Homo sapiens: one gene and its partners. The protein of the gene in region 1 interacts with the protein of each later gene in a pairwise test. Each region holds a gene or a part of one and is shown in the gene's direction. Other genes may lie near its edges. The genes, in order: AP2B1, DBH, A2M, SLC25A6, SOD1, AP1M1 and TOR1A.

Region 1 (3,500 bases):
GCTGATTTCCAAGCTACTAGAATGTAAGTGATCTTCACTTATCTGGGAAATTGTCCCTCTGGACTGAACTAAAGCTCACTCTGATAGTTTCTTTCCATCACTGAAAGTACAAATATAGTCTGGAAATAACTTTACTGAGAATTTTATTTTCTTCTGTTGGCCATTGACATCACATTCATTCATTCACTCACTTAGCAAATATTTATTAAGTGCATACTGTGTGCCAGGCAGTGTTCCAGGCTCTGAGGATACAGCAGTGAACAAAGTCATGGCCCTCTGGGATCACTTATTCTGAAGGATGGGGGTAGGAATATATATAATATGTATAGATAATATAATATATAATATGTATAGATAGTGTAATATGTAATATGTGAGATGGTGATAAGTACTAACAAGAAAGTAAAGTAGAGAAGAAATCTAAGAAATGCTGGGCATTTGGGGGTGAGGGGTTGTATTTTCTTTTTAAAGGATGGCCAGGGAAGACCTCACTGAGAAGGTGGCATTCATATAAAGACCCAAAGGAAGTCAGGAATAGGAGGAAGAGAGAAGTACAGCCTATTTATCTTCTTTCTTTAATACAGTAAGTTAGCTACTTGTGTTGCCCAAGCTACCAAAATTGGATTAATTTCTAAAGAACCCTCAACAGATAATTAAATATCAACCATTTTATGAGGCATGTAAGTGTAGGTGGCAGGGGCTAGGAGAGGGGGGAGACAGGAAAATATAGTAGTGGTGTCCTGCTATTTAAAAAACAAACCCTTTTCAGAGAGTCCCTTATTCTCATTATCCTTAAGAGAGGAGGTTGGATTGTTTTCCCTACCAGCCTGCCTCCTGCTGTATCTTACAATGAAATCTTCAGCCACAACTGCGTTTGCTGTCTCTTCCTATGAAATAACTCTCAGAATGCTTAATTTGACTTCCTATAGGTTGAGTAGAAATGGGCTGAGAGGCAGGGAGCCTTAACATAATATGGGGAGACAAAGAGGACTATAAAACAAGAAGGTAAATGGTGTGAGCTCAAGTGTCTTGGGTATTGCTAGGTTCTTTCCAGTTTGAACATCCCTTATTACTGGTTTCCTGAAGTCTTCTTATGTCCCTGCTCTGCCTGTAGTTTGCTGAGAATGAGGCTTCTGCATTGTTGGATCCCAATTTTACCTAAGCATGGAGCTTTGACTTTTCTAACTAATTCTTTAATTTTTTGATACTTGGCCATTAGACTCTGACATATTACCTTATAGAATGAATTCAGCAAATAAATTATAATTCATGATATTAATTTTCATTCTCCACCCTCAGCATCTGTGAGCGGGTAACTCCCCGGCTATCCCATGCCAACTCAGCAGTGGTGCTTTCAGCGGTAAAAGTCCTAATGAAGTTTCTAGAATTGTTACCTAAGGATTCTGACTACTACAATATGCTGCTGAAGAAGTTAGCCCCTCCACTTGTCACTTTGCTGTCTGGGGAGCCAGAAGTGCAGTATGTCGCCCTGAGGAACATCAACTTAATTGTCCAGAAAAGGTTGGGAAATAGCGAAGTGTTGATTAAAGTGTTTGTAATTTTGCATTAAGCTTAATAATGTCAATGTTAATTAGGCTAGTGTTAATCTCTTTTTAATATATGGAAATGAAAATGTTATATGGCAGAAAAACTTGCTTGCCTAGCACCAGGAGGCTAACAGTTGATATTACAGTGTTTCTATAATAAATGCCATGCGTTGCTCCACAATCCAGTTTGTTTTCTGAAGGGTCTCTTTCTGATATACTGTCTAGTGCCTGGTTGATATGGTTCAGGCTGTAGTTTAGAGCCAGATTGTTGTTCTAGCAGTTCTTCATGGCAACATGTGCCCTGATGCTTAAAAAGGATAAAAATAATCTGCCAAGTGGAACTGATAAGAATAGAGGCGTATAGAGGAAGTTTATGCTTTTTTTTTTTTTTTTTTTTTTTTGCCTGAGTGGAGCGAGAGGAGAGCAGAGAGGCACAGATTAGGTATTAATACAGTCTCAGAAGGGTATATCAGTATATGCCTTCACCTTCCTTTCTTCTGTTTCTGTGTACCCTAGGCCTGAAATCTTGAAGCAGGAAATCAAAGTCTTCTTTGTGAAGTACAATGATCCCATCTATGTTAAACTAGAGAAGTTGGACATCATGATTCGTTTGGCATCTCAAGCCAACATTGCTCAGGTCAGACTTTATGCAGACTCAAGTTGATGATGATTTAGCTCTTAAGGTCTGGCCTTTAAAGAAGCTAGGCTGTGAGATTGCTATTTGAGAATCCTTAATGATTAACCACTTCCTGGGTTTAACAGGTTCTGGCAGAACTGAAAGAATATGCTACAGAGGTGGATGTTGACTTTGTTCGAAAAGCTGTGCGGGCCATTGGACGGTGTGCCATCAAGGTGGAGGCAAGTGTCTGATGGTAGTTAGGATCATGTATTGGGGATTCTGAGAGTTCTCTTCACTTTTTTCTTTAAAATAATTTTTAAGTTTATCAAAATAATAAAGCACACAGTTTCAATGTTAAAGAATTTTTAATGGAAAGCAGCTGTCTCTGGTTCCTCCCTTCCCTACCTAGACTTTCTTCTCAGAGGGAATATTTTTAACTCTGATTTTGCTTTTAGTTATTCTTTTGATTAAAATAGGTCCTCCATATCCATGAGTTCCACATCCGTGGATTCAGCTAACTGCGGATCAAAAATATTCAGGGGAAAAGAAAAAGGATGGTTTTGTCTGTACTGAACATGTACAGACCTTTTTTTGTCTATATTCCTTAAAAATATAACAATTATTTACATAGTATTTACATTGCATTAGGTATTATAAATAATCTAGAGATGGTTTAAAGTATACAAGAGAATGTGTATAAATGCAAATACTATACCATTTTATGTAAGGCACTTAAGCATCCATGGATTTTGGTATCCACAGGGGCCCAGGAACCAATCTCCCATGGATTTGGAGACATGACTGGGCTGCCATATCTCTAAATAATATTCTTGGCTGGGTGCAGTGGCTCACACCTGTAATCCCAGCACTTTGGGAGGCCAAGGTGAGAGGACTGCTTGAGCCCAGCAGTTTGAGACCACCCTAGGCAACATAGTAAGGCTCTGTTTCTACAAAAACTTTTTTAAGTTAGCTGGGTGTGGTGGCACACACCTGTAGTCCCAGCTACTTGGAAGGCTGAGGCAGGAAGATTGCTTGAGTCTGGGAGGCTGAGACTGTAGTAAGCTGTTATTGTGCCACTGCACTCCAACCTGAAACCTTTTCACTCTGGGTGACAGAGCAAGACGCTGTCTCAAAAAAAGAACAACAATAATATTCTTATGCTATTATTTATTAATTTACCTATCATAGACTTTTTCTGTTAACTATCTGCTATAAGAAGTTTACTTCATACACCCACCATTCCCACTTCCGTCTCCTGTTTTCCAGTGTAGTTACATAATGAAGGTTTTTGTTCCTATATCCATTATCATGGTAGATTGAAATAATATGCCTTT
Region 2 (3,956 bases), on another chromosome or scaffold:
AAGGCTAGATTCTGGGTTTCTCCAGAGAGACGAGAAACAGGAGGGAAAAGGAAGGAAGGGAGGGAGGAGGCTGGGGAGGAGGGACAGCTTCTAGTCCAGCTGGAGAGATCTGTCAACCCAGCCTGGGGGGTGGAGCTGGAGGGATCAAGCAGAATGTCCTGAAGGCAGCTGCCCTCAGTCTACTTGTGGGAGAGGACAGGAGGGAGAGGTGCCGTGGTGAGACTGACCCTCGGGCCCACGGGTGGATGATGGCAAAGGTCCTGTGGCAGGTGTGGGAGAAGCAGGGCTGCGGCCAGCTGCCCTGAGAGGCTTCAAATTCAGGCCAGATCTGCTCTGGGCAAGAGGAAGCTGTGGGTTTGGGAGCTTCAGAGACAGGGGAGCAGGCCTGTCACTCACCCTCTTTTCCTTAAAGGCTGTCACCCCCAGCAGTGCACCCTGCAGCCTGCCTATCCCCTGTGCAGCTCCAGCTCCGTCTGTCCCCAGCAATGCACCCCACGCCCATGTCCCCCACTCCCTATGATGCTCTCGCGCCTTCTGGAGCAGCAGTGGTACCAGCTGGAGGCTGTGGAAAAATTGAGAGGAGACAAAAGTGGGAAGAGCAGGCCGTGGAGAGAGTGTCTAAACACAGGGACTATTTGGAGATTGTCTTATTTTTGGTTTGAAATGGGCCCACCTGCTAGTATTGTACAAACGGCTCTGCTCGCTAGGCCAGGCCTGCAGTGGCTACGGGCCTATCCTTCACTGGTCAGCCTGGAGCAGCTCCTCGGACCTCAGTCTGCTCATCCGTGGGTAGAGGCGACGCAGACCCCATCCCACTGGGGACTGGGCCAGACAGCCTGTGAGGCAGTCAGCTGGTGCCTGGCCAGAGGGTGTCTGAAAGGCCTCTTGGCTGCAGGGTGCATCTGCTTTTGGGACAGCTCTTCAGAGCCATCTCAGAAGGGACAGCATCCGCCTGTCTACTTCAACTCCCACTGATGACGTCCATGTGTCATTAGTGCCAATTAGAGGAGGGCAGCAGGCTGAGTGCTTGGCCTGGGGCGCAAGCTTGTGGGAGGGAAAATTGGATTCCCCGCTAGACAAATGTGATTACCCGTGCTGCCTGGACCCACCCCATTCAGGACCAGGGCATAAATGGCCAGGTGGGACCAGAGAGCTCACCCCAGCCATGCCCGCCCTCAGTCGCTGGGCCAGCCTGCCCGGCCCCAGCATGCGGGAGGCAGCCTTCATGTACAGCACAGCAGTGGCCATCTTCCTGGTCATCCTGGTGGCCGCACTGCAGGGCTCGGCTCCCCGTGAGAGCCCCCTCCCCTATCACATCCCCCTGGACCCGGAGGGGTCCCTGGAGCTCTCATGGAATGTCAGCTACACCCAGGAGGCCATCCATTTCCAGCTCCTGGTGCGGAGGCTCAAGGCTGGCGTCCTGTTTGGGATGTCCGACCGTGGCGAGCTTGAGAACGCAGATCTCGTGGTGCTCTGGACCGATGGGGACACTGCCTATTTTGCGGTGAGTCTCTCCTCCCTGCCAGCTCTCCAAACCCTTCCTGACCCGGCACCCCATCTGGCCGTCTTTCTGCACTCACCCTCCTTAACCCAGAAAGTTCTTCTGTCACCTGTCAGTGTTTGAGTTGACTCTGCTCTGAGCCAAGTCTGCACCCCGAGCTTGGGCATCATGGGGATCTCAGTTTGAGGACAAAATAGGAAAGACATGCTTTCCATGGTCCTTGACTGCCCGCCCCAAATCATGGGACCCAGTAATCCCAAGGAATGGAACTATACACAGAGGACGCACACACCACACACACTCGTGCCGCTCCACACCCCACACGCGCATGAGCACAGACCCCACGACCCTCGGCCCTGTAAACAATGCCTAGTACCACGTCCCCAGAGCACACATGCCCACTGATGTGGGCCAGGTGGTGGCGCGTGGCTGGGCACAGCATGAGGCCTGCACACCCATGGGATCCAGCCTGACCTACTGTGCTTGTACCCGTGGACCAACTGAGCAGGTGCAGACACCCTGCCCCTACCCATAGGTGTTGAACAAGCCCCACAGGGCTCAGCCAAAACTGTTAGGATGGGCTCTTGACTCCTTTCCGTCCAAATTTACCTCCACTCTTGTTTCACAGGGTGGAGAAAGGGGAAAAGTTTCCCTTCAAACTGGAGGGGACTTTAGGCCCTTCCACAAGCTGCAGGGGGTCCCCGAAGTGGGCGAGCCCACCGCCTACAATGGGTCCTGCTCCAGCCTTCCTTTCCACATGGGACTGGCCACCAGGGCTTCTTTGTGGATGAAACCCAACTCTCTCCACAGAAACACACAAAGGAGTGACAAAAAAGTTTTATTTCTGAAGTCAGGAGGTGCCTGCTTTATCTGGGAGTGCCGAGCTGGAGCGGGGGAGCTGTGTCTGTGCGGAGCGGCCGGCTCCAGCTCTGCATCTTGGTCTCACCATGGGCTGGTGGGGCGGAGAGTCCCTCTCTGCCTTTTTGGGTGTTGTGAATTCATGAGGGCAGATGGTGGCTGCTGTTTCTGGAGCTGAGCTTGCCCCCTCCAATTCCCAAGACTCGGCCAGGAGGCACTTGCCTGTGTCGCTAGTGAGGCTTAGGGCCACCCAGGTAGGGTGAGTGGAGCTGCCTGGGAAGGGCCCTGCTCTGACCCATAGGGCTGCACAGATTCCTGTGCACAAAGACACTCTGTGGCTCAGGTTCCAGCCAAGAAAGACCTGGGACAGCCCTGATTCTGAGCCGTCAGCCGTCTGGAGGAGCAGCTGAACCCCATCGCTGACAGTTTGGGGTTCTTCGCAAGCCTCTGCCATGAGGCACCCTGAGTGCAGGAGCATTTGCTCCTCTCTGGGGCAGCGTCCCCCCTGCCTGCATTTCCCGGCTGCTAGGGAAGCCAGAGGAAGCCAGGTGACTTTGCCTTTCCGTGCACTGGCAAGGTTAATTTGCACAACAAATTCCTACGAAAGCAAATGTCAGCCTTATTATTCCTCCCTAAGCAATATGTTCAACTAATATCTTCTTGATTTCCAGCTGAAATATCACAGGCGAACTTTCTGCCTCTGTTTAAAATGAGTCTCTCGGCAAACCAGCGGTGTCCCCAGCGGGGTTGCATTGTGTGGCTTTTTTCTCTAGGGAAAGTTTTGCAGTATCTTTTGCAGATTTCTTTTTTCTCAAGGAAATGAAGAAAAGATGTTTTACCCTGAATGTAAGATTAAAAAGAAACACAACCCAAAGTCCTTAAGGCCAAGGGCCCGAGGCTTTCTTGGGGTTTCCATGGGAAAGGCCAGGCAGGGCAGGGAAGCAGCTTCGTTTGGACAATTCTGGTGGGCTCTGGGTGGCTGGGGTGGTCTCTAGTTGCCTGGTTCCTGGCCCTAGGGTGTTTTAGGGTTGGGGCAATATTGGCCTGGGGTGTGAGAGTCAGGTGGAGGAGGTAGCTAGGGATATGGGCTTGGTGTGGGTCGGAATGTTAGGAATATGATTCTCACACACGTGTGAATGTTGGAGGGCAGGACAGGTGTAAACAACTCTGACCATCTGTTTGAGCCTTCAATCAATTAATAGATGCCAAATAGACAAATATGGAATCTAAGAAGGGCCCTTCTTGAGTACGAAGGGCAGCCTGCTTGTTGGGGAAGGCTCCTCGCTGTCTCTCAGTGGGTCTCCCTGGTGGTCTTCCATGTGACCTGGCCTCGGGCCACCGTGTCCCTGCCCCTTAGGGCCCAGTGCAAGGGGAGCGGCCGGAGACGGGGAGGGCAGAGGTCACTGATCCAGATCCCAGGAAGCATCCTCGGAGAATGCAGCAGGTCCAATGCCTCCCTGGGCCTCAGTTTACCTTCTCCAAGCAGGGCTGGGACTAAGGTGAGGGGAACAATGCCTAGGCTGCAGGGTTTAAAGTGGTGCTTCAGGCTGGGTGTGGTGGCTCATGCCTGTAATTCCAGCACTTTGGGAGGGCAAGG
Region 3 (3,500 bases), on another chromosome or scaffold:
CTCAGGTTTTTATGACATTTTCTCACAAGAATCTCAAAATTCATGCTGACCAGTTTCATTACGATGCTAACACTAACTTTGTATGGAAACAGGTGGGTAGGTGGTTTTAATTTTTATTTTGAAGTATTAAAGATTCTACAATAATGTTTATTTCATGGATAGTATATTTACACTATTTTTCTATAACAAGTATATTTCTAAAACAGTGAACATGGGGTAAAACACTGCTATTTAAGGTTCTCAGATTTTTGAATTATGAATTTTCATGTTATCTACCAAAAAAATCTTCTCTTACAATTTTTCTGTTGTCAGCAGATGTGCAAATGGATCTTTATGACTCTAGAAGTCTGAGATCACAGTTACATGTGCCTCAATGTGTATTTACTGTGTATCATTTTCTTAATGTAAATGTTACAGGATTTCAGCTATGAAGGGTGTAAAAGAGGCATAGACTCAACAAAGTGGAGTACATTCTAGAAGGCTTGGTTATGTCATGACACCAAAATGTATTCAACTTCCTAAAATGAAAGTGTAGCTCATTTGTAAATTTCTCAGAAAGATAGTGTACTTTGTAAGTACATTTTATTGCTGTTAAATATCCTATTTGTCATAAGACTCTCTAGCTAGAAGAAAATCAGAATTATGTGCCTATTCTTGTCTTTGTACATGCAGCCAACATTTCACTGGCAAACTTAGATTTTGTAAATCAATTATGAGTACTGATGGGGGTCAGCCTATTGTTCTTCCTGCTACCAACTGTAGCTTATACTGAAAAAGAATTGCCACCTTTACAATCTGAACTGGACTACTCAACTGCCAATACAATATTAGCAGTAAATTAGATTTGGCAACTTATTTAATACTGTGTGCCTCTTTTCAATTTTATATTTTTCACATGGGAAGTGTGTCATAAAATCTGCCTACCTTCCAAAAGGCTGAAGATCTAGGTTGAGAAGCAGAGACCATGTCTAAGGCAACTGGAGAAACACACAGGACAATGTATTGGCAATTGTTTACTTGTGCACTTATGAGACTTCAGACACTAATCTATAGGAAGTTAATGGTCCACTCCAAAATAGGTGTTTGGGGCACAAATAAATTTAGTTAATAGATTAATAGATTAAAATATTTCATTATCATATTACTCTAGTGCTCTGTGACTCTCTAAGAGTTATATATAATAATACACAGCACTTCCAAAATATCTAGAAGACATTTTTCAGGTCACTCTTGTTATTATCCCTATCACTCTCTATCCCTTCACACTGCTCTGTTTTTCTTCTTAGGATTGATTACTACTAAATTAGTGTATGTTATGTATATATTTATTTAGCATCTATCTCTTTCACTAGACAGTAAGCTCTGTGATGGAAGAAACTTCGTTTTTTTTCACTGCTGTGTCCTCAGTGCCTGGAACCATGTTCAACATAGAGGAGGCACTAAAAAATGTGATAAATGAATATGTTTGGTGCCTATTAGTTATTACCAATATAACTAATCCACAGCTTTTAATCTTCAGGTGCGCCTAGTAGATGGGAAAGGCGTCCCTATACCAAATAAAGTCATATTCATCAGAGGAAATGAAGCAAACTATTACTCCAATGCTACCACGGATGAGCATGGCCTTGTACAGTTCTCTATCAACACCACCAATGTTATGGGTACCTCTCTTACTGTTAGGGTAAGTTTGGAAAGAAATTACCAATGACATGAAGTAGCCTTGGAAACAAGGTTGCAACCTAAGGGTGAGAAAATTTCCAAACTGTGTCTAGTTCTATGGAGAGAAAAAAACTAGCAATTAGAAACCGATTGAAGGTTAACTTTTTTAAAGTTTATGAAAAGAAGGCAGTATATTGTGATTAAAAGTGCGGGTTAGACTTTAGCAGTGTTGCTGGGAACGTAAAATGGCGGAGCCACTATGAAAAACAGTATAGTAGTTCCTGAAAAAATTAAAAAATAGAATTACCAAATGATCCAGTAATCCTACTTCTGGACATATATTCAAAAGAATCGAAAACGGGGTCTCAAAGAGCTATTTGCACACCCGTGTTCATAGCCGCACTATTCACAATAGCTGAGAGATCGAGGCTACCCAAATGTCCATCAAGGGATGAACAGGTAAACAAAATGTGGTATATAAATACAACAGAATATTATGCAGCCTGAGAAGGGAAGAAAATCCTGTCACATGCTACAGCATGAATGATCCTTGAGGACGTTATGGTAAGTGAAATAAGCTAGTCACAAAAAGACCAATACTGTATGATTCACGTACATGGGGTTTCTAAAGTAGTCAAAGTCATAGAAACAGAAAACAGGATGGTGGTTGCCAAGGGCTAGGGAAAGAGAGAAATGGGGAATTCCTCTTATTGGTATTCAGGTTTAGTTTTACAAGATGAAAAGTTCTGGAGATCTGTTGCACAACAGATATACTTAATACTACCAAACTGTACACTAAAGAATAATGAAGATGGTAATTTTATGTTGTGTGTGTGTGTGTGTTTATAATAACTTTTTTGAAAAGTGTGAATTCCAGAATCTGAATCAGATAAAGTGGTTAAAAATACTGGCTCAACCCTATTTTAAGGAATTAACTAAAACCTCTGTGCTTCATTTCCTTATCTGTAAAATGATTGCAATACTAACACCTGACTCTTGGGGTGGTTGTGAAGATTAAGTGAAATCATACATGTTGAATCACTTAGTAAGCCCCCTTTAACTGTTAGATACTTTTACTATAAAAGCCAATTCTAACATAATTAGCATTTAGTTTTAAATATATATACTCCAAAAATTATTACCTTACTTTATTTTGTCTTGCTATTCTAATTTTCTCCAGATGACCTGTTCATACCAATATAAGTTATTCGGTATAGCATGCAGTCCTCTATTCATCAAGAGAGATGTAGACATGTCTATAGATACATGGATATACAATACATATTTAATATATATTACATAATCATGGTAATGGAAAACGCCTGCCTCTTTAGAGTTTTACCTTGTTATAGAGAAATAAATAATACATTTTATTTATTTAGCTTTAATAGATGGCATAAAAGCACCTCCCTCTAATTTGAATGTTTACTCATTTCAAAAAGTGTCTTGAATGCTTTCCACGTGCCAGCACTGTGCTAGTCTTGACAATGAAATTATTATTTCTACCTGTTCCCTGTTTGGGGTGATCATATATGTGTTGTCACCAAAATATACATTAAGATATGAACAAAATGTTTTGCTCAAGGATTCACTAGTGCTATTGGGAGCTGGGGATGAAGGTAGAGGAAGCCTGAAAGGAGCTAAGGAATAACTTCTACAGGAAGAAAAGTTGGAAATATAACCCAAATAGGGCCTCTGAGGTATTAGAATCCAGATTGCAGGGAGCATTAAAAATAGTCAGCCTAGGCCAGGCACGGTAGCTCACGCCTGTAATCCCAGCACTTTGGGAGGCTGAGGTGGGTGGATTGCGTGAGGCCAGGAGATCGAGACGAGCCTAGGCA
Region 4 (3,462 bases), on another chromosome or scaffold:
TGGACTTGGAGACGCCGTCTTCTCCCTGTGCCCTCACAGCATCATCCCTCTGTGTGTGTCTGTGTCCTCATCCTCTCTTCTTATGGGATGTCTTAATCCATTTCAGGCTGCTATCACAGAATACCATAGACTGGGTGACTATAAACAACAGACATTGATTTTCCTACAGTCCTGGAGGCTGGAGGTCTGAGATCCAGGTGTGGGCAGGGCTGGTTCCTCCTGCGGCCTCTCTCCTAGGCTTGTAGATGCCGTCTTCTCCCTGTGCCCTCACGGGGTCGTCCCTCTGTGTGTGTCTGTGTCCTCATCTCCTCTTGTTATGAGATGTCTTAATCCATTTCAGGCTGCTATCACAGAATACCATAGACTGGGTGGATTGTAAACAGCAGACATTGATTCTCCCACAGTCCTGCAGGCTGAAGGTCTGAGACCAAGGCATGGGCAGGGCTGGTTCCTCCTGAGGCCTCTCTCCTGGGCTTGGAGATGCTGTCTTCTCAGGCTTTTTCCTGTGTGTGTGTCTGTGTCCTCATCTCTTGTTATGAGATGTCTTAGTCCATTTCAGGCTGCCATCCCAGAACACCATAGACTGGGTGACTTAGAAACAACAGACATTGATTCTCCCACAGTCCTGGAGGCTGGAAGTCTGAGATCCAGGTGTGGGCAGGGCTGGTTCCTCCTGAGGCCTCTCTCCTGGGCTTGGAGACTCCGTCTTCCCTGTGTCCTCACAGGGTCGTCCCTCTGTGTGTGTCTGTGTCCTCGTGTCCTCTTCTGATGAGATGTCTTAGTCCATTTGAGGCTGCTATCACAGAATACCATAGAGTGGGTGGACTGTAAACAACAGACATTGATTCTTCCATAATCCTGGAGTCTGGAAGTCTGAGATCAAGGTGTGGGGCAGGGCTGGTTCCTCCTGAGGCCTCTCTCCTGGGCTTGTAGACGCCGTCTTCTCCCTGTGTCCTCACAGGGTCATCCCTCTGTGTGTGTCTGTGTCCTTATCTGCTCTTCTTATGAGGTGTCTTAGTCCATTTCAGGCTCCTAAAACAATACTATAGACTGGGTGGCTTATAAACAGCAGACATTGATTCTCCCGGAGTCCTGGAGGCTGGAAGTCTGACATCAAGGAGTGGGCAGGGCTGGTTCCTTCTGAGGCCTCTCTTTTTGGCTTGTAGACACCGTCTTCTCCCTGTGTCCTCACAGGGTCATCCCTCCGTGTGTCTGTGTCCTCATCTCTTTTTAGAAGGACACTGGGGTCGTAGGATCAGGGCCCACCCTACTGGCCTCCTTTAGTCTTACCTCTTTCAAGACCTTATATCCAAGTACAGTTGCATCCTGAGGTCCTGGGGTGGGGGTGGGACTTCAGCATGTGGATTTTGAGGACAGAGTGTAACTCCCATAGTAACGGTGACCCTTCAGAAGGTCAGGGCCCTATTCCCTTCCCCAAACAGGCCTAACCCCGGCCTCTGGGACTGTCTTGCTGGGCTCCGGTAGGTGGCAGGCGGCCTTTTCCCCTCTGGCCCTGCCCCGACCTCTCGTGTTGTAAACGTCAGCTGGCACTGAGCAGCCACGTGGAGGGGGCACTGGTGGTCTCGGAAGAGCTCGGCACCACCTCAGGGGGCCGTGAGCACACCCTGGGGGCCGACCCTGGTCTCGGGTGGCCGTGCAGGCGCTGGAGACGGTGACGTGCCGTTCCCGCGCAGGCATGCTCCCCGACCCCAAGAACACGCACATCGTGGTGAGCTGGATGATCGCGCAGACCGTGACGGCCGTGGCCGGCGTGGTGTCCTACCCCTTCGACACGGTGCGGCGGCGCATGATGATGCAGTCCGGGCGCAAAGGAGGTACTCGGGGGGGCGGGGGACCCTTGCTGCCGGGAAGGGGAACCAAGCTCCTTGCCCTAGGCCCGTGGGAGGTCAGGAACCATCAAAGGAGGCACTTCCAGGGCGTGTGAGACAAGCAAGTGTGTCCGAAAGTAACCTGGCTGTGTGGAAGGATTTTCCTGAACGATGGGCTTCTGATCTTTTTGGGGTTTCATGGTCCGGGCGGCAGTTTCTAAATCCCCGCCTCCTAGAACCTCTGGTTGCACCCACACCCTCGATCCTGCCTTCTCTGCATGGACCCCGGGGTGGAGATGGGGGACACCCAGGGCGGGGCCTGAAGTCCTGTGTCCAGCCCTCCCTGAGACAGTGGCTTAGGAGGAGGGCTTGAGCTGGGGGAGCCTCAGGTATCCCTCCTGTAATCAGAACTGTGGCTCAGGCGTCTGGGGTGTTATTTCTGTGAAACGTCTTTGTGGGTGCAGGTGGCGTCCGTGTCTTGAAGAGCTTGGCGGCGAGGCCCTCACTGTCTCCCTGTCGTTGCAGCTGACATCATGTACACGGGCACCGTCGACTGTTGGAGGAAGATCTTCAGAGATGAGGGGGGCAAGGCCTTCTTCAAGGGTGCGTGGTCCAACGTCCTGCGGGGCATGGGGGGCGCCTTCGTGCTGGTCCTGTACGACGAGCTCAAGAAGGTGATCTAAGGGCCGCGGCCTCCTCCACACACACACACACACCAGGGGAACCAAGAGAACCACGTAGAATCCTCAACCGTGCGGACCATCAACCTTCGAGAAATTCCAGTTGTCTTTTTCCCAGCCGCATCCTGCCTGTAGATGGCCGGGGAAGGCTCTAGAAAAGGGGCGCATTGCGATCCAACCATCGGCAGCCGATTCCGTGTCTTGATCACGGGGTGGGAGGGAACCGTGGCGTCCCTGCGTGGGGCCCATGGGTGAGACACTCCAGTACTGAGACCTAGAGTCCAGATGCTTGTAGGAGCCAAGTCGTGTTCTAAGTATTTATTTAAAACAAAAGAATCACGTTTTCCCATTTGTACTTCAGCGCTAGCCCCTGTTTTGCACAGCCGAGTACTGGCGAGTATGTTCTATGTTGGGCCTCCTGCTGCAAAACAATAAACAGAGGACGCAGAGGTCCTCCTGCCTGGCCACGCACCTCTCCACAGGGCGGCCTGGGGTCTGGAGATGGGCGCTGGGCCCACGGGACGCAGATGGGGCCACGCTCTGCCCGTGGCTGGCCCACGTTCCTGGTCTGCAGTGCTGCCTCCTCCCCAGCACCCCTGGGGCACAGAGGGCAGGGTCACAGCTGGGAAGAGGCGGGGGGTAGAAACCAAGGCTGGCAGAAGTGTAGCCGGGCTCCCTGATAAATGCTGGAGGACCCCAGGGCACCTGCACTTACTGTACCCTCTCTGAGAGCATTTGTATGATCTCATGTCTCAGCTCTGGAGGCTGGAGGTCCCAGAAAACCAAGGTATGGTAGATTCAGTCTCTGGTGAGTACCCAGTTCCTGGCTTCTAGATGGCGCCTTCTCCCTGTGTGTCCTCAGATGATGGATGAGGCCAGGGTGCTCTCTGGAGTCCTTTCTGTAAGGGCACTGATCCCATCCATGAGGCCTCATGACTCCCAAAGACCCCCAC
Region 5 (3,370 bases), on another chromosome or scaffold:
CCCAGGTTCAAGCGATTCTCCTGCCTCAGCCTACTAAGTAGCTGGGACTATAGGTGCGCACCACCACGCCTAGCTAATTTTTGTATTTTTTCAGTAGAGACAGGGTTTTGCTATGCTGGCCAGGCTGGTCTCAAACTCCTGACCTCAGATGATCCAGCCACCTCAGCTTCCCAAAGTGCTGGGGTTCCAGGTGTTAGCCACCATGCCTGGCCATAGACTTGTTTCTGTTCCCTTCTCACTGTGGCTGTACCAAGGTGTTGCTTATCCCAGAAGTCGTGATGCAGGTCAGCACTTTCTCCATGGGAAGTTTTAGCAGTGTTTCTTTTTAGAATGTATTTGGGAACTTTAATTCATAATTTAGCTTTTTTTTCTTCTTCTTATAAATAGGCTGTACCAGTGCAGGTCCTCACTTTAATCCTCTATCCAGAAAACACGGTGGGCCAAAGGATGAAGAGAGGTAACAAGATGCTTAACTCTTGTAATAATGGCGATAGCTTTCTGGAGTTCATATGGTATACTACTTGTAAATATGTGCTAAGATAATTCCGTGTTTCCCCCACCTTTGCTTTTGAACTTGCTGACTCATCTAAACCCCTGCTCCCAAATGCTGGAATGCTTTTACTTCCTGGGCTTAAAGGAATTGACAAATGGGGACACTTAAAACGATTTGGTTTTGTAGCATTTATTGAATATAGAACTAATACAAGTGCCAAAGGGGAACTAATACAGGAAATGTCATGAACAGTACTGTCAACCACTAGCAAAATCAATCATCATTGTGAAACATAGGAAGCTTCTGTAGATAAAAAAAAAAATTGATACTGAAAACTAGTCGAGACTCCATTTATATGTGTATGTTTTCTGAAAGCCTTTCAGAAAAATATTAAATTTAAGGACAAGATTTTTATATCAGAGGCCTTGGGACATAGCTTTGTTAGCTATGCCAGTAATTAACAGGCATAACTCAGTAACTGAGAGTTTACCCTTTGGTACTTCTGAAATCAGGTGCAGCCCCATCTTTCTTCCCAGAGCATTAGTGTGTAGACGTGAAGCCTTGTTTGAAGAGCTGTATTTAGAATGCCTAGCTACTTGTTTGCAAATTTGTGTCTACTCAGTCAAGTTTTAATTTAGCTCATGAACTACCTTGATGTTTAGTGGCATCAGCCCTAATCCATCTGATGCTTTTTCATTATTAGGCATGTTGGAGACTTGGGCAATGTGACTGCTGACAAAGATGGTGTGGCCGATGTGTCTATTGAAGATTCTGTGATCTCACTCTCAGGAGACCATTGCATCATTGGCCGCACACTGGTGGTAAGTTTTCATAAAAGGATATGCATAAAACTTCTTCTAACATACAGTCATGTATCTTTTCACTTTGATTGTTAGTCGCGGTTTCTAAAGATCCAGATAAACTGTACTTGCAGTTCAAATTAGGAAAAGCAATTTTATTGGACAATTACGGTGAAAATGAATTATTTTATCTAGGTCAGTTAAGAACACTGTTCTGCTAAGATGCAGTAAAAAGCAGGTTACATTTGACCATATTAGATCTGAGTTTGGAAAACAGAAGTAGTCTTTAGTTTTAAAATGGCCAGATTTTCTTGCCAGGATTGGGTTTCTCACTTGTTAAACAGAACATTTTGTTAAGTTTAAAACCTGGGATGGACTTAAGTATTCATGTTCATTCATGTTCATTCAGGACTGCAGGTTATCATGACTTGTTTAACTTGTGGGAAGCTGTTGTCCCAAGTTATCCTGGGGAACTGCATCTGGTTCTTGCAAAACACCAAGTAGACAGGCTCTCTTTTACCTCCCCTTGAGGGCATTAACATTCAGTAGTCACTTCCATTCAGTTAACCCTTTATTTTTATGGTTTTTCTTGAGCCATAGTTGTAAAGCAGAAAAATCATTTATAAAGGTTTGTTGAACAAAATTCAAAATACTGTTGCTTAAAGTATTAAGATTTTTTAGGATTATACCTTACTTATAGGCCCGTCATTCATTTGGCATGAAATTTTGAGTTTTATTCACTTTCACTTTCCTTTTTTTCCAAAGCAATTAAAAAAACTGCCAAAGTAAGAGTGACTGCGGAACTAAGGTTACTGTAACTTACCATGGAGGATTAAGGGTAGCGTGTGGTGGTCTACAACATAGTTATTTGGGTTTTAGTATTTCATTTAGACAGCAACACTTACCTAATGTTTAAAGGTAATGTCTTTGCAACACCAAGAAAAAGCTTTGAGTAGTAGTTTCTACTTTTAAACTACTAAATATTAGTATATCTCTCTACTAGGATTAATGTTATTTTTCTAATATTATGAGGTTCTTAAACATCTTTTGGGTATTGTTGGGAGGAGGTAGTGATTACTTGACAGCCCAAAGTTATCTTCTTAAAATTTTTTACAGGTCCATGAAAAAGCAGATGACTTGGGCAAAGGTGGAAATGAAGAAAGTACAAAGACAGGAAACGCTGGAAGTCGTTTGGCTTGTGGTGTAATTGGGATCGCCCAATAAACATTCCCTTGGATGTAGTCTGAGGCCCCTTAACTCATCTGTTATCCTGCTAGCTGTAGAAATGTATCCTGATAAACATTAAACACTGTAATCTTAAAAGTGTAATTGTGTGACTTTTTCAGAGTTGCTTTAAAGTACCTGTAGTGAGAAACTGATTTATGATCACTTGGAAGATTTGTATAGTTTTATAAAACTCAGTTAAAATGTCTGTTTCAATGACCTGTATTTTGCCAGACTTAAATCACAGATGGGTATTAAACTTGTCAGAATTTCTTTGTCATTCAAGCCTGTGAATAAAAACCCTGTATGGCACTTATTATGAGGCTATTAAAAGAATCCAAATTCAAACTAAATTAGCTCTGATACTTATTTATATAAACAGCTTCAGTGGAACAGATTTAGTAATACTAACAGTGATAGCATTTTATTTTGAAAGTGTTTTGAGACCATCAAAATGCATACTTTAAAACAGCAGGTCTTTTAGCTAAAACTAACACAACTCTGCTTAGACAAATAGGCTGTCCTTTGAAAGCTTTAGGGAAATGTTCCTGCTTAGTCATTTTAGCATTTTGATTCATAAAGTACCTCCTCATTTTAAAAAGACATTATGATGTAAGAGAGCCATTTGATAACTTTTTAGTGAGCTTTGAAAGGCAAGTTACAGCCTCAGCTAGCTAGTAAGATTATCTACCTGCCAGAATGGCACAAATTCTACATTCAAGGGTAGACGCTGGCACAACCTACTTACAGATTAGCCCTTTAAAGCAATCTGTAGCATTAGAAGATGGAACCAAGGAAATGTTTGACTGTGGGTTCTGGCTGTTGAGAAATAATTTACACACCGAATTAGTGA
Region 6 (3,500 bases), on another chromosome or scaffold:
CACTCTTCCCAGGTGGGCTTTGACTCATGTCCATGGGCCAGTGACTCTCAATTTTGTTCACAGCATTTCTCTGGAGATCTAGTGGCCTCTGAGACACCAGAGAGGTCCCGCCGCCACCATAAATTCAGCATTCTTCTAAATGCACTCCCTGTACCTGCTCTCTTTCCATTTCAGTGATGCCATCACCCATTCAGCCATCTGCACAAGAGACCTGGACGTTATCCTCGCCTCCTTTGTCTCCTCACCCCTGTTTTCACTCCACAAATGTTTACTGAGCACCTACTATGGTCCAGGCCCCTTTCTGGGTGCTGGAAAACAGCTGTGAATGAGACAGGAGTAGTTGCTGTTCTCAGGGGATGTCAGACAGTAAAGGAGGATAGAAATAAATGTTTAATGCACCAGGTGATAGGGATAAAGCAGGGGTCAGGGTTCAGAGGGATGGGACATGATCTCAGCCAGAGCAAGCAGGGAGGATTTCTTTTTTTTTTTTTTTTTTTTTTTTTTTTGAGATGGAGTTACGTTCTGTCAGCCAAGCTGGAGTGCAATGGCACAATCTCGGCTCACTGCAACCTCTGCCTCCCAGGTTCAAGTGATTCTCCTGCCTCAGCCTCCCAAGTAGCTGGGACTACAGGCATGCACCACCACGCCTGGCTAATTTTGTATTTTTAGTAGAGACAGGGTTTCACCATATTGGTCAGGCTGGTCTCAAACTCCTGACTTCAGATGATCCGCCTGCCTCAGCCTCCCAAAGTGCTGGGATTACAGGCGTGAGCCACCGCGCCCAGCTGGGAGGACTTCCTAGAGGAGGTGTTATTTGAGCTGAGGCTTGAGAAATGAGAAGAGCCAGGTCAGGGCAAAGGCCCGAGGTGGGAACAGATGTGGATCACTCAGAGACCAGCTAAGGGGCCAGGCTGGAGCAGAGTGAACCAGGGCAGCGCAGGCAGAGAGGCGTCAGAGGGGCTGTGAGGAGCCAGACCACGCTGGTCCTTGGGAGCCATGGGGACGGGCTTGGGCTTTGTTCTCAGTGCCGGGGAGGCTGGGGTAAGTGGCAGTTCAGCAGTGGGGGAGAGACCCCGTCTGGCTTCTGTGTAGGAAGAGCCCTGTCACCCTTTGTGAGGAAGGACCTGGGGGGTCAAGAGTGACAGCAGGGGGAGGGGCTGTTCCCTCAACACGTCATCACCTGCCTCCCTCCAATCAGTTCCACAGGCCACGAAGCAGACACTAGGAAAGGAAGGTGCCACCCCGCACCACCCCCAGTCTCGCCTTGAGAGAATAAAGGCAGCGTGTGATGAAATGCCAAGTTCTGAGGCAGGTGGTTCCCAGGATGGTCAGCGCCGCAATGGCCTTCTCAGCATGTTGCTGAGTCCTGCAGCTGGCTGTCCTGCAGGCCCCAAGAGCTGCAGCTGCTCCAGGCAGCATCTCCAACCGCAGCCATGCCCAGGCTAGCAAAACTTCCGACCTCCTTTTTATTCTTTAATGAGGTATAATTTACATTAATAACCTGCACTTATCTAAAGTGTACAATTTGATGAGCTCAGTCATGTGGGAAGCCATAACCACACATTCCATCGCCCCCGAAAGCTTCTTCACACCCCTTTGCTGTCTAGCCCCATCCCTAGGCACCCACCGATGTGTTTTTCATCACCATTTTCTAGGATTTTATACACGTGCAGTCATGCAGGATGAGCTCTCGTTTGTCTGGTTTCTCTCAGCCAGCACAGTGATTCTGATGCGCCTGTGTATCGGGAGTCCGATCCCTTCCGTTGCTGAGGCATGCTTCTCATGGTGTGCACGGATACAGTTTGTTTCTAGTTCACCTGCTGAAGGACATTGGCATTGTTTCTAGTCTGGGTCTGTTTCAATTAAAGCTGCTGTTAAGATTCTCGTGCTAGTGTTTGTGCAGACATGTGGTTTCATTTCTCTTGGGTAAATACCAGAGAGAGGAATGACTGGATCGTATGGTAACTCTGGGTTTCACTTTTTGAGAAACTGCCAGACTACACCAAAGTAGTTGTCCCATTTTCCATTCCTATCAGCAGTGGACAGGGGTTCTGGATGCTGTATATCCTGACCCACAGGCTATGAAAGAGAGAGACCAGGAAGAGGGCTTCTCCCTTCAGGCCACCTGTGGACTTCAGTAAATACGAACCTTCAGCGGGAGTGGGCGCCCTGACACAGGCGGGAGAGCAAGGTGCGTTGGCCCGGCAAAGGCTCTGAGAAGGTCTGCATTGAGAGCTTGTGAGGCATTGCTTAACCTGATGTCTCTGGGTGATTCAGTCCTGGACCTTTGCTGCAGAGTTCGCCTCTACCCTCACCCTGCGAAGAACTGCAGTGGCCCCTGTGGGCATTCACACTGGGAGATGCTCTTCTCCAGGAATTCCCTGGGGGATGGAGATCAGAACGGCCTCAAGTCCTGCTCTTTTGCGGATAGTGGCCATGACCGGAGTCCCCAGAGCGAAGCAGGGTGGTGCATCTCACCCCCTGCCCCAAGCCCCCAGATTGTAGAACTGAAAATGCAAGCATCTTTTCTCTTCCTTCCCCACCCCAGGTGCTCATCTGCCGGAACTACCGTGGCGACGTGGACATGTCAGAGGTGGAGCACTTCATGCCCATCCTGATGGAGAAGGAGGAGGAGGGGATGCTGTCGCCCATCCTGGCCCACGGGGGGGTCCGTTTCATGTGGATCAAACACAACAACCTGTATCGTATCCCTTTGCTGGGGGTGCTCCCAGGGGACTCCTGTGTGGGTGTTGGTGTGTGTGCATATCCACACGCCTGCAAGCAGGGCTGGTTTGTGCACAGCGCAAGCATTGGACACAGCCATGCCCTCCTGGAGCTCCCTGCTGCCTGCGGAGACAGGCAGACAATGCACGATGACATGTGTGATGGGTGTGGGGAGAGGAGCAGGTGTGACTTGAACCTCTTCAGCCCAGGGGCCCAGGAAGGGAAATGACACCCTGGAGGAAGCCTGCAGGGAGGCCTGGCTTCTGCCAGCTGGAGGGGTGGGCAGGCACTAGGCGTGGGTGAAGGCTCTGCAGGGAAGAGCCTCATTCCAACAGCTGCACTCGGGGTGGCTGGAGAGGGGGCGTGTAGGGCAGCGAGGCTGGAGTGGTCAGCGGGGTCTGGGGTCTCAAAGAACATCATCTGAAATGTGACAGGAAGTCTCTGGAGGCTTTTAGATGTGTGTCTTCTGGAGGTTTCTGGCTGCTGAGTGGGGCAAGACTGTGGGGACAGGAGAGGACATGGGTAGGTGGGGAGTAGGCTGGGGCCATCGTGCAGGTGGGAGGGGAAGTGGCCTGGACCACGGAGGGGTGGTGGGGTACAGCCCCGCCCAGATCTCAGAGCCCCCCACCCTTCCTGTCCTTGGGCCCATGGGGAGACTTGGCCAAGCCAGTTTCTATCCAGGAGGTCTAACTGGCCACCCCACAGCTTTGGGCAGACCCGCAAGCCCATCTCAGTACCCACACTACTGCGGAAGGGCCTGCTTTGCCACTCACAGC
Region 7 (3,500 bases), on another chromosome or scaffold:
AGCTCTGCCTCCCAGGTTCACACCATTCTCCTGCCTCAGCCTGCCGAGTAGCTGGGACTACAGGCACCTGCCACCACACTCGGCAAATTTTTTGTATTTTTAGTAGAAACGGGGTTTCACCATGTTAGCCAGGATGGTCTTATCTCCTGACCTCGTGATCCGCCTGCCTCGGCCTCCCAAAGTGCTGGGATTACAGGCGTGAGCCACCACGCCTGGCCAGTTCCCCCATTTTCTTCAGCTACATGATTTTCTTTGTAGAAGAAAGAGCCAGTGGTTGAGCAAGGAAGGATGCCGTGGGCAGCTCAGGGGGAGAGATGACCTGTTAGTTCCTCCCTTTCTCTGCATTGCCCAAGAGCAACAGCCAAATAGCGGTTCGGCCCTTATTTTGTACTGGGCACCGTGTGAAACAGCCTGCCTGCGGATTTCACTCAGTCTTCACCATACCTCGCAGGGTAGAGACTGAGACTCAGAGATGTGGCAGCTTGCCCAGGGCCATGCAGCCTGTTCGGTATCTCTGATTCTAAAACCTGAGCTTTTAAGTTTTAGCTCACTACTTCTCCAAATGTCATGAGACCTTTGACCTTGAACCTGGGGAGGTGGAAAGCCAGCCTGATGGAGGCTGACTCACTGGCTAAGACCTGTGAGTTGTGCAGGGCTGGCTGTTCAAGTCTTTGCGCTTCAGGTTCTGGAGATGACAAAACAGAAGGGCTCATTTGAAACAGACTTGCCAAGAAATTAATCCTACAGTTAGTGAACAGCATGGGGTACAGTATGTCAGTGTGTGCAAGTGGAATACTACTGAGGAAAGACAAGTATTTTGTAACATGTTGGATAGTTTCTTGCCTTGCCAAAAAACATGAGCACATGCAGTGGAAACTTTAGCCTAATGCTGAGGCAGATGAGCCCCGTGGCCTAGAATCCACGCTGTGGAGGTTACACGGTGCTTAGGAGTGCCAACCTGGGAGTCGGGCAGCCCTGGCCCACAGACTGACTGTGACCTCAGGCAGATGGCTGAACATTGATTCAGCACATGTATATGGAGCATCTGGTAAGTGCCAGGCATCATACCTAGGACGGGGGACACAGCAGTGAACAAACACAGAAATTCTTGCCCTTATCAATCCTACATCCTAGTGATAATAAAGAAAGAAAATGTATCAGATGATGGGGGATAGATATGTTGATGTGTGTGATGTGTTTGTGTGTATACATGCAGTACATATGCACACATCGCACATGTACACATGTGGACATATAGATATCTTTCCCCCCGGGGCCAGTAGGGGAAAAAAATCAAGAAAGGCTTTGGGGTTCAGGGTAAGGATGGGCTCTGCTTTAATAGAGTGGACAGGGAAGGCTCCCTGTGAGGGTGGCATTTGGGCTGACCCGGGGGAGTGAGCCATGTGGATGTCTGAGGGAAAAGCATTCCCCAGTGCGGACAGCACGTCCAGGGGCCCGAGGGGGGCCTGTGCTTGGGGTCCCTGTGACTGGTTGAGGATAAACAGAGGAGGGAAACGGGAGGTGATAGAAGAGGCGAGATTTGGGGTGGAGGTGCAGACCGTGGGAAGCCTGGCGGGCCATGGTGAACCTTGAGTCTTATTCCAAGTGGAAGAGAGAGGCCTGGAGGGTCCTGGGCAGGTGGTGCTGTGATCTGACGGGGCCTTCACAGGACCTTGCTGGCAACTGGATGGAGGACAGACCCACAGCCACAGGGGCAGGGAGCCCAGCGTGGAAGCGGTGGGGGTGGAGGGACACGGTTGGCTTCTGGGTGTGTTTTGAAGGTAGAACCTGTAAGACTTCCTGCAGAATTGTATATGGGAATGAGAGAAGAATCAAGGACCTGGCTTGAGCGATGGGAAGGGTGGCACTGCCATTGAAGGGAAGGGACAGCAGGAAGGACGGGCGAGCTCAGTGGGCAATGGCATCAGGGCATCAGAGCAGAGCCACGAAGCTCCAGGGAGGCCATCAGGCCAGGAGGGCAAACTTGGGAGTCCTCAGGAGATGACTGTGAAGTCTCAGGGCTGCCTGAGGTCACCTGTTCTGCCGTCACTCCTGGGTCTGCGTGGCTGGGTCCTTGTTGCTCGGGCTCTGCCCTGAGGTCCTGCCCAGCCTGCTCCACCTCCCGCTCTCCATGTCCGTTCTGCTGTGTGGCATTCGCCACTCCAAGCACCATCTGAGATTGTTTCCTGCCCTAGAGTGGTAAAGCCGTGAGGTCCGTCTGCCCTCAGCTGTGTCCCCAGGCCCAGGGCGTGCCTGGCACAGAGCAGGCCTCTGAGAACCAGCCTCCCACGTGAGTTCATGATAGCAAGACAGCCCCTCGTTCCCATTCAGTGGTTGGTTCTGTTCTTTCCCTGGCCATAGGCTCCACTCTGTCAGTCAGCCACACATTTATTGAGTACCAGTTGTGTGCAAAGCACTGTTGGGCATGAAAAGCATTAACCCAGTGAATGAGGAGGAGCTTGGGTTGGGGACGGAGCCCCAGAATTACATGGCAGACCAGAAGGGAATCAGCTCAGTAGAAGACACGCATGGGCTCGTGGGCGACGCAGTGTGTGCTGTGTCATCTGGGGCTGGGAGGAAGTGTCCTGGGTCAGGAGTTCCAGGAGCCCAGGAGGAGTGGACGGGTCAGTGCAGAGCCAGCCCGCATTCAGGGGAGAAAACACGGCCAAGGCCAGGCCTTCACGGGGAGCCCAGCGTGGGCTGCACATCTGCACTCTCCAGGCTAGTTTTGGTGCCCACATGCTCTGCAGGGTCTGGGCACTGTGGCAGCGGCAGCAGGCTTCCCTGTTGCTAGTCCAGCTGCTGAAACTCCAGGGAGAGTCAAAAAGTTCCCAAATACAGAGGCGTGGCTGGTAGTCCTTCCCGGGAATTCTTCTTGCTTCCCGCTTTCTGTGGAACTCTGCCTTCCCCACTCTGCCTCTCTGCTTGTTCCTGGGCCCCAGGACCTCTTTCCCATCTTCGATCTCTTAAGTCATACCTTGGGAGGCCTCCCCCAGCCCGCCGTGTAAAGAGGGCTGTCACAGCTTCTGCTGTCACAGAAGCATTACAATGTGCAGGTGCCTGTTAACATCTGCCTTCCCCACTGATCTGGAGCTCCACAAGGGAGAGGGCACACCCAGTAGGTATGTGTGGGATGGATAGGAGGGTGGATGACACCCAGTAGATGTGTATGGGATGGATAGGAGGGTGGATGACACCCAGTAGGTGTGTATGGGATGGATGGGAGGGTGGGTGACCCCTAGTAGATGTGGGGGGGGTGGGTGGGTGACCCCCAGTAGGTGTGTGTGGCATGGATAGGTGACCCCCAGTAGACGTTTGTGGGACGGATGGGAGGGTAGGTAAGTGACCCCCAGGAGGCGTCTATAGGGCAGGTGGGTGGATGTGGATGAACAGCACCTTGTTTCTTCTTCCCAGGTGGCTTCTGGCACAGCAGCTTAATTGACCGGAACCTCATTGATTATTTTGTTCCCTTCCTCCCCCTGGAATACAAACACCTAAAA

Evidence for each region.
Region 2: the proteins of AP2B1 (region 1) and DBH interact in binary tests that used the Homo sapiens proteins (3 or more experiments, as listed by UniProt).
Region 3: the proteins of AP2B1 (region 1) and A2M interact in binary tests that used the Homo sapiens proteins (3 or more experiments, as listed by UniProt).
Region 4: the proteins of AP2B1 (region 1) and SLC25A6 interact in binary tests that used the Homo sapiens proteins (3 or more experiments, as listed by UniProt).
Region 5: the proteins of AP2B1 (region 1) and SOD1 interact in binary tests that used the Homo sapiens proteins (3 or more experiments, as listed by UniProt).
Region 6: the proteins of AP2B1 (region 1) and AP1M1 interact in binary tests that used the Homo sapiens proteins (3 or more experiments, as listed by UniProt).
Region 7: the proteins of AP2B1 (region 1) and TOR1A interact in binary tests that used the Homo sapiens proteins (3 or more experiments, as listed by UniProt).

Annotation. Positions count from the first base shown.
Region 1 is NC_000017.11:35,625,322-35,628,821, forward strand, and holds part of AP2B1 (AP-2 complex subunit beta), read left to right. Parts: intron 1-1,299; coding exon 1,300-1,521; intron 1,522-2,063; coding exon 2,064-2,184; intron 2,185-2,309; coding exon 2,310-2,405; intron 2,406-3,500. UniProt on the Homo sapiens protein: Component of the adaptor protein complex 2 (AP-2). Adaptor protein complexes function in protein transport via transport vesicles in different membrane traffic pathways.
Region 2 is NC_000009.12:133,635,207-133,639,162, forward strand, and holds the start of DBH (dopamine beta-hydroxylase precursor), read left to right. Parts: upstream 1-1,156; 5' UTR 1,157-1,165; coding exon 1,166-1,504; intron 1,505-3,956. UniProt on the Homo sapiens protein: Catalyzes the hydroxylation of dopamine to noradrenaline (also known as norepinephrine), and is thus vital for regulation of these neurotransmitters.
Region 3 is NC_000012.12:9,102,420-9,105,919, reverse strand, and holds part of A2M (alpha-2-macroglobulin isoform a precursor), read left to right. Parts: intron 1-1,519; coding exon 1,520-1,681; intron 1,682-3,500. UniProt on the Homo sapiens protein: Is able to inhibit all four classes of proteinases by a unique 'trapping' mechanism. This protein has a peptide stretch, called the 'bait region' which contains specific cleavage sites for different proteinases.
Region 4 is NC_000023.11:1,385,652-1,389,113, reverse strand, and holds the end of SLC25A6 (ADP/ATP translocase 3), read left to right. Parts: intron 1-1,694; coding exon 1,695-1,835; intron 1,836-2,354; coding exon 2,355-2,512; 3' UTR 2,513-2,962; downstream 2,963-3,462. UniProt on the Homo sapiens protein: ADP:ATP antiporter that mediates import of ADP into the mitochondrial matrix for ATP synthesis, and export of ATP out to fuel the cell.
Region 5 is NC_000021.9:31,666,062-31,669,431, forward strand, and holds the end of SOD1 (superoxide dismutase [Cu-Zn]), read left to right. Parts: intron 1-387; coding exon 388-457; intron 458-1,196; coding exon 1,197-1,314; intron 1,315-2,409; coding exon 2,410-2,517; 3' UTR 2,518-2,870; downstream 2,871-3,370. UniProt on the Homo sapiens protein: Destroys radicals which are normally produced within the cells and which are toxic to biological systems.
Region 6 is NC_000019.10:16,200,911-16,204,410, forward strand, and holds part of AP1M1 (AP-1 complex subunit mu-1), read left to right. Parts: intron 1-2,548; coding exon 2,549-2,705; intron 2,706-3,500. UniProt on the Homo sapiens protein: Subunit of clathrin-associated adaptor protein complex 1 that plays a role in protein sorting in the trans-Golgi network (TGN) and endosomes.
Region 7 is NC_000009.12:129,814,137-129,817,636, reverse strand, and holds part of TOR1A (torsin-1A precursor), read left to right. Parts: intron 1-3,414; coding exon 3,415-3,500. UniProt on the Homo sapiens protein: Protein with chaperone functions important for the control of protein folding, processing, stability and localization as well as for the reduction of misfolded protein aggregates.